Homo sapiens: one gene and its partner. The protein of the gene in region 2 interacts with the protein of the main gene of each other region in a pairwise test. Each region holds a gene or a part of one and is shown on either strand. Other genes may lie near its edges.

The links.
Region 1: the proteins of SH3GLB1 (region 2) and HCCS interact in binary tests that used the Homo sapiens proteins (3 or more experiments, as listed by UniProt).

Annotation. Positions count from the first base shown.
Region 1 is NC_000023.11:11,106,945-11,114,867, reverse strand, and holds the start of HCCS (holocytochrome c-type synthase), read right to left. Parts: upstream 3,537-7,923; 5' UTR 3,350-3,536; intron 2,850-3,349; 5' UTR 2,808-2,849; coding exon 2,708-2,807; intron 34-2,707; coding exon 1-33. UniProt on the Homo sapiens protein: Lyase that catalyzes the covalent linking of the heme group to the cytochrome C apoprotein to produce the mature functional cytochrome.
Region 2 is NC_000001.11:86,699,231-86,707,575, reverse strand, and holds the start of SH3GLB1 (endophilin-B1), read right to left. Parts: upstream 3,001-8,345; 5' UTR 2,677-3,000; coding exon 2,605-2,676; intron 1-2,604. UniProt on the Homo sapiens protein: May be required for normal outer mitochondrial membrane dynamics. Required for coatomer-mediated retrograde transport in certain cells. May recruit other proteins to membranes with high curvature. May promote membrane fusion.

The DNA.
Region 1 (7,923 bases), on a different chromosome or scaffold from region 2:
TTGGGCCAGATGGCTCTGTATTCACTGGACAGCCTGAAATAATCAAGTATAAAAATGGTGTCACCATGAAGGCAGGACATCTAACTCTCTCAATTGGAGCACTAAAGAGCTGAATTTCTGACCAATGATTACCACCATAGGAAAAGCCAGGTTTCTTCTGTTTAAATCTATCAAGAACTGAACTAGCTAACATTCCAAAATCCTAAAGATGAGAAGGTTCTAAAATTTACATTTCCTTTGAAAGAAAAATGAGTATACATTCTCTAATTGTGTCACACCCCCAGCAAAAATAAGCCAAAAAACCTTGGCAGTTGCAAGAGCATGTGTTATCTGTGCCATGGTTTGAGTAACCTGGCTGGATGAGCAGCTGGGGAGCTGTTAGAGGAACCTAAGAGGGGACCAGCCACATTTCACAGGGTCTCCTTGACTTTCCATTCACTAGTTCCAGAGAAGCCCAGATCCAATCAGGACACAGTTGCAATCCAGGCTTTCATTACTGATGCATTATCTCAGGTACAAGGAAGGGGAGGAGAAAATGAACAGAGGAGACATCACAGAGGCTACTGCAAAAAAATCTGAATGCCACTCTGCTTTGTCTCAAGACTGAAACAAGGCACAGGAAAACCACGTGGCCTATGGCCTATTCCCATCAGTCAATGGCAAGAGTTTAACAGGAAAAGACAGACAATAAAGAAAATATTCCACAACCCATACAGGATCAAGATGCCCATTACGAGGGAAGGTCTGAGCCTAATGAGATGAGCAATAGCAAGGGCTATGCCCAAAGACCCAGGATGCTGATCCCAATTAGTGAGGGACTGGGAAACTGGTTCAGAGAATGAGCAGGCACTTGGAGAGCTGAGACACAGAAGACAGCTGCTCATGTAATGGAATCTTGGCCTCAGGCAGCAGCAGCAGCAACTACAGCAATACACATGAAAAAGCTGAGTTTGCTTTCACTTCCTTCCCTGCACTTCTCCTCCCAAGCCCTCATTTCCTGGTGCCCTGTGCCACTGCCCACTTTAGGGGTGAAGGAAGACTTGCTATGCCTTTCCTCTCTACCACTGAAAGCACCAATCCTTTCCAAGTCATAGATCCCAGCTGGGTGTTACAAAGAAAATAACATTTCAACTTTTCACGTCATATAACCAGTAGCCCCTTCGATCTCCTATAGACACCCACATTCTTTATTAATGTAGTAAGTCTGGCAGCTCTCCAAGATATACAGCAAATGAAATAAAACCAAAGTAAGGGTTCTAGAATCTCCCTGAGGACACTCAGAACAGGAGCACACCTGCTTTGGCTGATCTGTCTCAATTCTTCCTGTACAAAGAAACCCCAGAAGAACACTGCCTGTCCTTGTCCAAGGTCACAGAACTTTTGCTGGCTTTGCCACTTACTATGTGACTTGGAGCATCAGTTACTCCAAGTCTTAGTTTCCTTGACTATAAAATAGGGAGAAAACTTAGCTTATGAAGTCGTAAGACCACATAGCTTATGAAGATGAGAATGTAAGCTCTATCAGGCAAAGCTCCATTTTGTATGATGTTATTCTCTCGTGCAGAAACAAACAAAATCCAGCAATGCTTGGTACAGAATGGGCAGTGACCTCTCAGAATAGGCTGGCTGACTGAAGAAATGAATAACAGCGCAAACATTAGTACTCAGTAAGCACACCATGTTGCTTCTGCCCTTCACGACTTACTGATTCAAGCCACACTTTAATATAAAAAATCTAAAGTAGACATGAATGAATTAAAAATGAAAGACAGCTTTTCCATTTTCATTTTCTTATCTAAAGAATGGACAGCAAGCCCGTTAAGTGATGGCTTACTTTTATATACGAAAATACTGAAATGGCTATACGAGCAAAAGTTATTTATTAAGACAGCTAGATCTAGACTAAGGTTTCTCAACCTTGGCCCTCTTGATATTTGGGGCCAGCTGATTCTTTGTTGGGGGGCTGTTCTGTACATTGTAGGATGTTTAGGAGCACTCCTGCCCTCTATTCACTTTCCTCTCAGTTGTGACAACCAAAAATGCCTCCAGATATTGGCAAATGTCCCCTGTGGGAAGGGGGGATTGCCCCCCTCCAGTTAAGAACCACTGATGTAGGCACAAGTAAACTTTGGGAAGTTGGGGCTGGTTTAGAGTACTCACTACGTTCTCATGTACTACCTCAATCATCATGACAGGCCTGTGAAACATTATTATATCTTCATCTTACAGATGACAGACTGAGGCTAACAGAGTTAACTTGTTTAGAGTCACAAACCTCAATAAGACGCAAAATAACGACCAGACCCAGGGTGCCTGACTCCCATGCCTACCAGCCTCAGCAGCATACTACACTGCCTCTTCCTTTAGAGGCTTTCCAGACTTTTTTTAAGACACAGTCTCACTCTGTCACCCAGGCTGGAGTGCAGTGGCACAATCTTGGCTCACTGCAACCTTGGCCTCCCAGGCGATCCTACCCACCTCAACCTCCAAAGTCGCTGGTACTACGGGCACCCACCAGCACGTCTGGCTAATGTTTGTATTTTTTTGTAGAGGGAGGTTTTTGCCATGTTGCCCAGGCTGGTCTCGAAGTCCTGAGCTCAAGCAATCCACCCACCTCGGCCTCCCAAAGTGCTGTCACAGGCGTGAACCACCGCACCCAGCCGTGAATTATCTTTTGTTTTTATTTTCTAGGCAAAGGGCCGATTACCTTTCATTTTCCCTTCATGCATCGGGCATCCTGAAGGTGGGGACGCTGAAGCATTTGAGGCCTGAACTGCAACAGCAGGAGCAGATGGAGACAAACCCATGGCTGGAAACAGTGTTGACTGTAAACAATTTTAAATTTCCACCTGCCAAAACAAAGAGACAGATTAATGTCTCTGGACTCAGACTATTCTCTCGTTAGTCCTAATCTGGTCAACCCTTGTTCCTCCTCTTTGTCATCCCATGGGCATCTACCAGGCAGGGTACTAACTTCGAAGGACAGCTTTAATATATTGCCCCCTTAGGGAAATACTGTGAAACCCAGGCCAACCTCTGGGGGCACGTATGTATCTAAGGCAGTGAGGATTTTGGGACTGAGGTGAGGCAGTCGCTGAGAAACCACGTCACAGCCAGGAGGTACAGGCCTGAGGCGGGAGTGGGGCGAGGATTTCCGAGGAGTGGTGACCCGGGTGGAGGAGGGGAGGTCCATTGAGCCTAGACTTGACCCCCATCCCCAGAGCCTTAGCGAGGGGCTGGGGGTCCGAGAAGGGTGCGGCGCATGAATAGGAATTCGAAGAAACGAAGGGACACCAGAGGTCGAGAAGCTGCCAAGTGTCTTCCCCACACCGTCCCGGCGCTTGCCCACCTGCTCCAGCCCGTGGTCCCCAGACCAAACCGGCCGCGGCCAGCCTGCCCTTCTGCACCTAAGCCCTCCCCCGGGCTGTTCCGGGAGGCCGGTACCGCCTTCAGTCGCCAACCCGAACCCAGAGCAGCAGTGACTTCACGCCGCCGCCGCCGCCGCCGCCGCCTTCCTCTCACTCGGTCACCGCTGTGGCTGCGGTCACCGCCGGCGTTCTCACGCACCCCTACTTCCTTTTTAGAAGGCGGGACTTCCGGGCACGCGGGAGGCGGGCTGAAGAGTAATATTTTCCGTCAATCACGGAGAGCGGGTTCCGTCCCCTCCTCGCCCCGGCCTGTAACTGCTGCGGGGGCCGCTTTCTGGGCCCGCCCCTCCAGGCCAGGAGCCTTTTTCAAAATGTGGCGGTGGCAGGGAAGGTTGTCTGCTCCAGAGGCTTCCCTAGAGTGAAGAGCTCTACTATGTATGCTTTATGCGGCAGAAGGAGTGCTTTGGAGGAGTTTTTAAATTTGTTTTTTTTTTAAATCTTATCGGTTTTAATTGTAGCAATGATTCAAGAAACGTTAGTAGGTGCCCATAACTTCGGTGGTGGAGATCCAAAAGTGAACAAGACAGTGTTCTGGCTGCTAAATTCTTCTTAACTGGGTATGTGATTTTGAATGTCTGTATTTTCATTTACCTCCAACAGAAATTTAGCATTTTCTTCCATCAGGGATGTAGGCAATAAATCCTAGTACTATTAGCTGTATGTGGCACTAATACACATTACAGATAAATTATGTCACATATGGTTGTTGTGCCTGTCTCAAAATATCATCCATCCACTACTTTGAAATTAAGGTAATTTGATCTTGTTACTTAAAGTGTTAATAAAGAAACATATATCTTTCTATATAACTATAGTGGCTCTGTGAAATACGTCCAGATGTCCCCTGGTGCAGAAAGTGTTGGGGGCTCACAGCTTTCAGCTGAGTCTCCAGGAATTGTCCTCTGCCTAAGAGAATTGCCTCACACAAAATCACTTCCCCTCCTTGGGGACGATCTGCATCCTATGAGGGTCTCTGCAAGGGCACATAAGTCCAGGCCCCTAGCCCCAAAGGGGACAACTCAGAAGGGCCATCCCAGCATCAGAACTGCCTACAGGATAGCCCAAGGATTCCATTTCAACTATCACAGCTCAACTTCTCTCTTTACCCACAATTCTTTTGTCCCTCCCACAATTCCTTTTCACTCCCGCAATTCTGTTTTGTTACCCACAGTTCTGTCTCCCACAATTCTCAGTTCTTTCCACAATCTTCTGTCTCTCCCACAATTCCTTATTTCTCCCACAATCCCATGTCACTCCCAAAATTCTATTCCTTCCCACAATTCATTTTTCTGTCCCACAATTCCTTGTCTTGCTCACAATTCTCTTGTTTCTCCCATGATTCCTTGTGTCTCCCACAATTCACTTTTCTGTCCCACAATTCCCTGTCTTGCCCGTAATTCTGTTGTTTTTCCCAAAATTTGCTGGGTTTCCCAGCAAGCCTTTATTCTTTCCTACAAATTCTTGTATCTCTCAAAATTCTGTTTCCCACAGTTCCATTCCTCCCACAGTTCTCTGTCTTTTCCATCATTCCCTATGACTCTGTCTGTCACAATTCCTCAAAATTATTCATTTCCACAATGTTCTGTTCATTCACAATACTCTGTTCTTATTCCCCAGTCTCTCCCATAATTCCCCATTATCTCTCATAATTCTGTTCTTTCACAATATTCTTTTTCATGATTTCCTTTCTCCCACAATTCTCCCTTCATTCTCATAATTATTCCGTCTCTCCCACAACACTGTATTCTCTCCCATGGTTCCCTGTATCTCCCAGAACTCTCTGTTCTCTCCCCCAATTTCCTGTCTCTCCCTGAGTTCTCTGTTCTCCCACAATTCCCTGTGTCTCCCATAATTCCATGTTTCTCCCCACAATTTTTGGTTTCCTCTCACAATTCTCTGTTCTCTCCCACAATTCCTTATCTCAACCATAATTCTGTATTCTATGCTACAATTTCCTATCTTTCCTATAATTCCCCATCTCCCCCACAATTCTTTGTTCTTTCGCAGAATTCTCCACTCTTACAATTCTCCATTCCCTCAAAATACTCCATGATTGTTCACAATTCCCCAGTCTCTCCCCTAACTCCCATTCTCTCTCATAATTCTGTTTTCTCACAATATTCTCGTTCACAATTTTCTATCCCACAAGTGTCCCTTTTCTCCCACAATTTTGTGTCTCTTCCACAATTTTTTGTTCTCTCCCACAATCCTGTGTCTCTCCCACAATTCTTTGTGCTGTCCTCTCCACAAATCTATGTCTCTCCCACAATTCTGCTCTCTCCCACAATTCTGTGTCATATGCTACAATTTCCTGTCTTTCTCATAATTCCACATCTCTCTCCTAATTCTTTCTTCTCTCTGATAATTCTTCACTTTCACTCACAGTCCTCCATTCTCTTAAAATTCTCCATCCTCATTTGCAATTCTGTAGTCTCTCCCCTAACTCCTTAGTCTCCCTCATCATTCTGTTCTCTCACAATACTCTATTCTCTTACACAATTTCCCATCTCTCCCACAATAATCTCTTCTCTTTCATAATTCTCCCTTCTCTCCCACAATTCCCCGTGTGTCCACAATTTTGTGTCACTCCCACAATTCTCTGTTTTTTCCTACAATTCCTGATGTCTTCCCCCTTTCTTTATTATCTCCCACAATTCCCTGTCTCACCTACAAGTCTCTGTTCTTTCCCATAATTCCTTGTCTTTCCCATAATTCCTCGTATCTCCTACAATTCTTTGCTCTGTCTCACAATTCTCCACTCTTGCACTTCTCCCTTATTACACAATATTCTGTTCTCTTTCACAGCTGCCTAGTCTGTCTCCCAATTCCACATTGTCTCTCACAATTCTCTGTTCTCTCATGATACTTTATTCTCTCCCGCAATTCTCCCTTCTCCCACAATTCCCTATCTCTCCTATCATTTTCTGTTCTCTACCACAATTCTCAGTTCCCTTTCACAATTTCTCAGAAGACCCAAGCCTGGTCCTGTAACTTCAGTGTTTCAGGGCCCAAGGGGAAGAACATGCCCAGATGAGTGGTATGTGATCAGGAGGAAGGGGTATGGTGGGAGGGTTTGTGGTTATAATGAGAGCAGGTGTCAGGAAAGGTGTGACTAAGGGGGAGCACAAAAGACCAATTATTTGTTTTTTTCTACAATTCCTGAGTTCTTCCACTTAATTCCGTATTATAGCACTTGACAAAAGATTTGCAGTTATGTATTTGAATGTGTAATTCTCTTACCTATGTATGGATTTTCTGAAGTTAAAAAATAGATCTTATTTGGCTTTATATCCGCTATATCAGCACAACTCAAAATGTGTCTTGCCAGTGGGGACCAGTTCACACACTGTTACCCTTCTAATATGAGATGAGGAGCTTTCACCACAAGGCAAGGCAAAGCATTGCTTGCCTCATCCAGAAAGTCTTACTATGAAAAATGTCTCATCTCAGATAAAATTGTGCTTAGTGGCATAGCAGATTTATATTATAGTACAAGATTCTTAATTCAGTGTTGGCCAATAACTAGCAGTTTCTGGACTGGCACTTGGGTAGCACTGCCCTATCATTACAGTGTAGTTTCTGTTGTATAATTGAGTGCTCACTGAAGCAGTCAGAAGCAGACACTGGAAGGGATCACAGAGTCAATGAATCTTGAATGAGTGATGTTTCACTCATTCAGCAATATTTATGGAGCACCTATGATGTGTCAGGTACTGTGGGAAGTGCTGAGAATTTAAAAGTGCTAGACAGACTCCTTGCTCTCAGGGAATTTACATTCTAGTAAATGAATAGATTGGACAACAAACAATCCAACACAAACAGATAAATAAATAATTTAAGATCCTGATAAAAGCCACCAATTAAATGACACAGGTAGTGTGACAAAGATTGAGGCATGGGGGTCTACCCACCCCTGTGGGTAGATGATCTGTGGAGCAGAAAATTTGTATTCCTCGGGAGCTTGTTAGAAATGCAGAATTTCAAGTCCCTCCCCAGAACCACTGAGTCAAAGTCTGTCTTGTAACATGATCCCCAGATGATCAGTGTGCACGATACAGATTGAGAGCTCAGGATACCTTCTCAGATATGGTTGTCAGCAAAGACCTCTCTGAGAAGGGTGACGTTTTAGCTGAGACCTGAATGTTGAGAAGGACCCAGCCATGTGAAGATCAATGCAAAGAGTGGTCCAGACAATGAGAATGCCATGGTAAAATGTTCTGAGATCAGAAAGAACAGGGAAAGACCAGTGTGGCCCACACAGAATGAGTTGGGGGCAGAATAGTAGGAGGTGATGTTGGGGCTGGATCATGCCATAGGCCATGAGGAGGAAGTGACATTTTCTTTTAATTGAAATGTGAAGCCATGGAAGGGTTTTTAAAAAGAAGAATTATTTGATCTGACAATAGAGATAGCTTGTTTTTCTCAACTTTGCTCTTCACCACTTTCTAGTTATGCCTGGAGACCTTCACTTGGTTCTGTGCCAGCACTGCCCATG
Region 2 (8,345 bases):
CAATTACAGACACATTAAAGAAGTCTGTTTCTCCTAAAATTTTTCCCTTAATAAACGGCTCAAGCCAAAACCTTGGAGTCATCCTTAACTCATCTTTCTCTCATACCTCACAGCCAATCCAACAGCCAATACTGGATAATTTGGAACCTTCACTGCTACCACTGTAATCTAAGTTACAATCGCCTTTTACGTGTATTATGGCCACAGCTCCTTCATTGGTCTCCTTAATGCCCCTGAAACTTCAGTCTTTGTACTTCTTCCTGCTGCCTGAAATACTTTTATTCCAAAAAAAACTAGGTCTGTCACTTCCTTGAGGTCTCTTGAATTTCATCCTATTAGAAAGACTTGCCCTGACCATCCTATCTATACACGATACTAATGTTAGAAAATACTAATAAAGATATTAACAACCACCATCTCTGCGTTATTCTATTCTTCTGGCCATGATTTTTATCACCACCTGATGTATTTACAAGCTTATCTTCCGCTACAATGTAAGCTTCAGGAGGGCAGACACTTTGCTGATTTTATTCACTGCTGTATCACCAGTGTCCACAGTAGCCACAAGCAGACATCAGACATGCAGTAGACACTTAAATATTTAAAACTGAAAAGAAAATTATTTGATGGCTAACAGATTAGCATAAAATTTAAAACTTTTTCCTAAAGAATTTGAAACAAGGAATTAAAATTCTTTGGGAAGTACACATTTTGAGAGCTTTGCTAGATTTAATTTTTTAAATTGAGTCTATCCACAATTTAAATCAGACTAAATTCTAGTAAATGTGTCCTCTTTAAGGGGTGTGAGTTATACGTCTGAAACATATTTAACTGTATTTAAAAGAGTAGCATTATACAGTGTCAAATCCTCATAAGCATCTAGAATTATAGGTAATGAGCACTAGGACAAACAAAAATACCAAGGGCTCTAGTCCTCTATTGCAGTCAATGTTAAAAGTGTACAAGTGTCTCACACATCAAAATTCATTTCACACCCTCAATCACTCATTCTTCTTGCACCTTGTCTTTGAACTATTAGAAGCTAGTGAATTTAAATCAAAACATTATTTTAACTATAAAGGCTCAACGTCTACAATATATCATATTTTAGGGAAGGAAGGGAAGAAAAGGGTTAAGGCAGCTAGCTTATTACTCACCATGCAGATTTTAGAACTTAGAAATCAAAAGCTAGAAGGAATTTACCATCTCTAAAGTGTTACTTGCTTGTTGATATGGAAATGCTCAGATTGAACCAGATGATTTTTAAGGTCTCTCTAGGCCACAGCATTCTATTATTCTAGCTATCTTAAATCTGGAATGCTTATCCCGGAAGAAAAAGCAGCTGGGAGTACTAGGTCAGACAGCACCTGGTTATTTACTAGTTGTGCAAGTTTCTTAACCTCAGTAAGGCTGCTTCCTCACATATATAAAAGGGGTTAATAACATCTATCTGGCAAAGTTATGGAAAAGACTGGAGATAATATGTCAAATGCATTACAAAGTGCTTGACAGGTTTTTCATAATATAGGCAGCTATTACCTTGCTCTAGCTCTACTACTCTTTTGCCAGGGATAGTGCAATGTAGGATCAACTGTGCCAACAAAATTGGGGCAAAGGCAAGGAAAGTAGTAAAGCCACAGAACAGATTTACATTTCAGCACCAATTTGGTATGCATATTAGAAAATTATTTTTGTTTTCTTTTTACAAAAGAGAATGTTGTTGCTACCGTGACCGTAAACACCAGATTGTTTATAATTCATGTTGTGAAATTTACATCTGTTCACAGATTTACTGAGTTGGCATAACATGGGTGATGACTGTGGGAAACGGCCCAAGTTCCTTAGTACTGACACTTCCTTGATTGTAGAATATCGAGAGGTAGTCAACTTTTCCCCTTAAAGTATATTTAAAACATACTACTGTGACTACAGCCATAACAATATCCCCGCATCTCTCCTTGATCTACAGCTGGTGCTTCCCATTTTGAAAAAGAGTGAAAACCCCCCAACCCTAGGTTTCTTGTGGTCTTGGCAAAGTCTCAACGCCAACTGGCGATCTCCATTTCCCCCGCGGGCTGCCAAGCCCAGGACAGTCCTTTCAGGGAGAAAGAGGGCCGGAGGGAACTGTGTTGGCAGCTCTCTGGGTTGAAGGACAGGAAAAGGAAACTCCCTTCTTGGACTCCGAGGGGAGGGTGAGAGACGAAAGGAAAGGGTGGGGGGTAGTGCAAGAATGGCCTGTGTCTCGGTTACCGCAAAGGACTCGCAAGCCTCCGCCAGCCCCGGGGTGGAGGCCACAGGAGCACTGACGTCGTGGTATCAGAAAGGCGGACAGTGCAGCCTTAGTGTTCCCCAGGGGTGGGAGGAAGCTCCCGGCCCCGTCCCCACCCCGCCTCGCTTCCCAGGGAGCGGCGGTTGGGCAGGAGCGGGGCAGAAATCCGCCGCCGGGCCCGGGGAGGGGACCAGGCCGCGCCCATCTCCCAGGCCTCTGGCTGCAGCAGGCCCGCTGGGTGGTCGGCGAGGCCCGGGGGCGCCGCGTCGAGCTGCGGTCCCCTCCCTCAACCTTCCCGGGCGCCGCCACCCCTTTTCCCCCCAGCACCAGGGTACCTGCACGGCGCGACTGAGGAAGGTGCCTGCGTCGGCCGCCAGCTTCTTCACGTTGAAGTCCATGATATTCATCCTAGGCGGCAGCCGGGCGGAGCCGGCCGACCTAGCGGCGGCGAGGCGGAGGTGCCGCGGCCGGGCTGGGGCGCAGGGCTAGAGCGGCGAGGGCAGACGTGGTAGGTGGAGGGAGGCGGCGCCAGCCCCGCAGCCGCAGCTGTCGTTTCCGTGAACGGGGAGGATGAAGGCGGGGCGAGGGAGGAGAACAAGCGCGCGGCGGCAGCGCCAAGGATGGGTCAGTCGGCTCGGAGAACGGCCGCTAACGTCGACGATGGGCCCCGCGGGCGAGCCGGAGATGGACGGGCGACCCCGCCGTGTGGACCCGGGTCCCAAGGGAAAAACAAGCGCGGGCCGCGGGGCGGAGCCTTTCTCGAGGTTATCGCGGGAACAGCGACCCCTTGAGGATTGCGGCGGCGCAGCCCCGGGGCGCGCCGGGAGCTCCGCCCGGCTCCTGTGGAGGAAGCGGCGAGGGCGAGCCGCGGGGTCTCGGCGCCTCTGTATGCTTGCACTTAACGAGAACCCAGAGCGAACACGACCCACATTTCTCTTTTTGTTTTAAGAGGAAATATAGGAGTTACAGCATAGAATTACAATATCTGGACATTAGAAATAACAGGTCCCGGTCACGGTATGGCACCGCGCGACACACTTGGTCCCTGAGGCCTGGATGCCGCTCAGCAAACGTTCGCGGAATAGGGTTGGGTTTACTGTCCCCCACCGAGCCGGTTGCTCATTCATTCAGCATAATTGAATACCTCCTGTGTGCCAGGCACTGAATCAAGTGTCGGAGACAATGTCCTGCCCTCAAGCTCCTGGCCGGTTACTTGACAACCTTCCGGGACCTCAACGCTATGTGCCTACTGTGTGAAAGCAAAGTGCCAGGTGGAGGACACAAAGATGGCGAGCGACACAGGATAGTCCTTAACAATTAAGCGTGACTAATTTTAATAACAAATGAGAATATGATGTGACATCCGTTCCAAATCCTGTCGTTCCAAGTAACTTCTTAAGCATCTTTCACGATACAGCCTCTGCTTGAAAGGAATTAAAACAGGTACAAGCATGGAAGGAGACGTTGCTATCATATTTCAAGAATAAGAAAATGCTGTTTTGTGTGGTTGTGCAGCAGGCAATGAAATGAGCTTACATTCAAGCTTCCGTGTTTTACTGAAACAACAGTCACAGATGCAGTAGATGTTAAAGGTTGAAAGACGAGTGCAGTAAAAGCATTATGAGGACAAGAAGAAAACGTAAATATTTGTGTTGTTTCATTCTTTGTTGTGGTGGCAGAAACAGCCCCCTCTTTCTAAGGTAACTCCAATATAATGATCTCTCCCAGCTTTGAAATACTCCATGTCTGTTTCATTTTCCAGAAATATGGAAAAATGAATATATAATAAAAAACCCTATTTCTCATTTATTGTCTATTTTAGATCTTTATGTGGAAAAGCACTTACTCTCTTCCCAGAGCACTGTTTTTAAAGTAGGTATATTTGCCATAACCTATGCTCGTCTCTACAAAAGGATCACACCACCGTGTCCACCATTAAAGGGGAAATTCTTTAATGGTGGACACAGTGGTGTCCCTGAATCCTCATCCTCAAGTGTTTCAATCTTCCCAGTCTTGGGAAAACAACAATGTTACTTCTTTCTTTTGCACCCTCTGTAGCTGTAATCCTGTTTCCCCATTCTCCATAAAAGACTTACCTTATTTTCATATATCCTTATTCTTAGCCTTTGACACTTTTTTTTTTGAGACAGAGTTTTGCTGTGTCACCCAGGCTGGAGTGCAATGGTGTGATCTCAGCTCACTGCAACCTCTGCCTCCTGGGTTCAAGGATTCTCCTGCCTCAGCCTTCCAAGTAGCTGGGATTACAAGCATGCATCACCACGCCCGGCTAATTTTTTATATCTTTAGTAGAGACAGAGTTTCACCATGTGGGCCAGGCTGGTCTCGAACTCCTGGCCTCAAGTGATCCGCCTGCCACAGCCTCCCAAAGTGCTGGGATGACAGGTGTGAGCCACCGCACCCAGCTGATTCGCTTTCTTTACAGAGAAAATATAAATCATCACTCTGTTTGGCAGAAGCCTCTTCAACCAAATTTCCTTATTTCCACCTCCTGTTCTCTCCACACTCTTTCCTGCATCATTGCCAAATGTTTCAAAGGAATAGGTGTCTCAGGTGTTCTGAGTAGAGCCACTGCTCCCTTAATCTTGGCTGCACATCAGCATCACCTGGAGAGTTTAAGCAACCACTGATGCCTGGATCCAGTCCCAGAGTGTGGACTGGGCATTGGGATGTTTTAGGAGTTCCTCTAGGTGTTCTTAATGTGTGACCAAGGTTGAGAACTAATTTGTCACCCTCTAGAACTTGCTCCATCAGTCTCTACCCTTTGCCTACAGACTGATTCTACTTCTCTTACCAGATATCAGTCCCTTAAGGGCAGTGTCCGTTTCCTATTTATTTTTATATATTTTATGGTTTACACAGGCAACATAGTGAATTCCCAAATGATTTAGTAAGTGAAAAAAGTAATCAAATCAAGATGTTTACAGTGCTAAGCTCTTTTGTGACACCATCACCCCCAGCCTAAATTTCCAACTATTTATCCATAGATTCAATATTTCCAGTGGCAAGTCTGTTATAGTTTGCTTTTCCTGAAAATTCTTCTTTTCTTGGGTTTCCTACATTGATAAATTGAATCATACACACCAAATCACCTAAGCCAGAAATCTGAGTCCCCTTTGATTATTTCCTCTTATTTCCCACCACCAATTGGTCTATCCTGGCAATTTCTTCTCTGAAACTGTTTCCTATTTTTCATTTTCATCCTCTTTTTAAAAACAAATTTTTTAACTTGAAACAATTTACAAACTAAGAAAACTGTTGCAAGAATAGTACAAAAACTTCTGTGTACCCTTTGCCTAGAAACCCCACTCAAACTTTGCCAATTATTCCAATGTCTTTACAGCAAAAACGTCCCAGCCAAGAAAGATCATGTGCTGCATCCAGTTAGCTTGTTGCTCAATTCTCCTTCAGTCTGGATCAATTATTCAGGCTTTTCTTGACACTATTCCTTCCCCAGAGTTAGCCACTATTTTTAAATTGGTATGATTAATATCTGTTATGTTTTTGTACTTTCACTGAATTTATATGTATCTATGAATGGTACTACTATGTTATATTTTTAAACTGCATAAATGATATCATATAGATAAATCCTTTTGCATTTAGGGGTCTAATACTTCTATTTGTGTATTTGATGACCTTTTTGTTTGTGGATTGATTCCTTTTGCTTTGTACATTGATTCCTTTTAGCTTTTTTTTTTATGGCTCATTTTTAGTGATACAGAAAAAAATGTTTCTTCTGTCAGAGACCCCTAAGGTTATCACTGGCTAGTGAGCAATTTTTACATGAATTTCTTTCTTGGCTTAGAAGTTCTAAGATCATTCAGATATTATAAATTTGAACCCAGATTTGTGGGAGTACAAACTATGATTCAAATTCTCAAGGGAGAGAGATCTTCCTTGTTTTTTTCTCTTTCAGAGCTTGTGCCTTGACAGAAAAGCTTCTTACTATGCCAGAAGAAAAGCTTCTATCTAGTCTACCCTTTCATTGAGGGTACAGAATTTCATGGGTTTTTAACTTATGTGTGTGTGTGAGGTCATGAAGTTGGGGGACAGGGTGTGCTCACAGTTAACTGATTTCTGTTTGCACCAAGGGCCCAAGGTCTTATCACAAGTTACCGTGTATTTTTAAAAATTATAAAGGCCAGGCGCGGTGGCTCATGCCTATAATCCCAGCACTTTGGGAGGCTGAGGTGGGTGGATAACTTGAGGTCAGGAGTTCAAGACCAGCCTGGCCAACATGGTGAAACCCTGTCTCTACTAAAAATACAAAAATTAGCCGGGTGTGGTGGTGGGTGCTTGTAATCCCAGGTACTCGGGAGGCTGAGGCAGGAGAATCACTTAAACCGAGGAGGTTGCAGTGAGCTGAGATCACGCCATTGCATTCCAGCTTGGGCAACAAGAGCGAAACTCCATCTTAAAAAAAAAATTAATGAAAATTGACAAATGATAATTGTATATACTGTATTGTATACAACCTGATTTGTAATATGTATACATCTTGGAATGGCTAAATTGAGTGACTTAACATATGTATTACGTCACATACTTATTTTTATGGTGAGAACACTTAAAGTCTGTTCTTAGTGATTTTGAAGAATACAACATGTTGTTAACTATAGTCACTATGTTGTACAATAGATCTCTTGAACTTATTCCTCCTATGTAACTGAAATTGTATATCCTTTGACCAGCGTCATCCAGCTCCCTCACTCTCTCCCAGCCCTTGCTAACCACCATTCCACTCTTTGCTTCTATTGAGTTCAACTTTTTTAGATTCCATATTTAAGTGAGATCATGCAATATTCATCTTTCTGGGCCTGGCTTATTTCACTTAACATAATGTCTTTAAGGTTCATCTATGTTGTCACAAATGACAGGATTTCCTTCTTTTTAGAGGCTGAATAGTTTTCCATTGTATACATATATCACATTTTTAAAATCCATTTATCACCTCATGGATTTAAACATTCAAGCACCATCCTCATTCAATCCTTTCTCCTCTCCAGACAGGGTCATATTCTGTATTCAAGACCCTGGTGTCCAGTTTCTTTTTTTATTTTTGCCACCTGAATATTTCCCTGTCTTTTTTTTTGTAAGCTCAAGTATGCATTATTATTAATTAATTAATTTATTTTGCTGCATTTTACCCAGCATTTCTAAGTATTTGTAGTAGAAGAGTTTTCATGTTATCTAGTCTGTATTGATTAAGGACTGCTTATGTTCAGCTCAAGTAACAGAAACCTAGCTGTAGTGACTTACCCAAATACTGATTTATTTTCTCACCCTCTAAGAAGTTCAGAGGTAGGCAGTCTTCTGTGTTTTTGTTTTTCTATTCTTATCATGTAGCTTTCATCCTAATGTCTCAAGATGGCTCCTGTAATTCTAGGCATTAAATATGTTTTTAAGGCAGAAAAAGGATGAAAAGTAAAGGCAAAAGTACATGCCAACTGAGTCTACTTCTTACTCCTTAAATCAAGAAAACAGCTTTTTCATAAACCCCACGTAGTAAACTTTGGTTTACATCTCATTAGCTAGAACTGGGTCGTTTAGTTCTCCGTAAATGCATTAGAGACTGATAAATGAAATGTGCCCTGTTGAAAAATAAGTATTTCAATTTTTTATATCTTTAAAAAAATCTATATCAAAAATACATATATATGTATCTATATATCTATATATATCTATATATAGATACATATAAATTCAGTTGAAAGTATACAATCATAATAGAAATTAGTATTTTATTTTTAAATCTTTCTTTATTTCTTAAACAGCACTTACTGTCATCCTGAACAAAAATGGGGTTTCTGTTAGCAAGGCAGAAAGAGAATAGTTATAGGGTAAGCAACTATCAATGTCTGCCATGCTGCTGTAAGGCAAGAATTGAAAGTCTCCCATGCTCACTGAAACTTCCTTTCAGTTTTTAGACTGATAAACAGGGCCACTTACATAATTCGCAGGGACCAATGCAAAACGAAAATATGGAGCCCTTTGTTCAAGAGCAAAAGGAAAGTGCTGTTTAAAGGTATTAAAATAAAACTTTTTCCTTTATTTT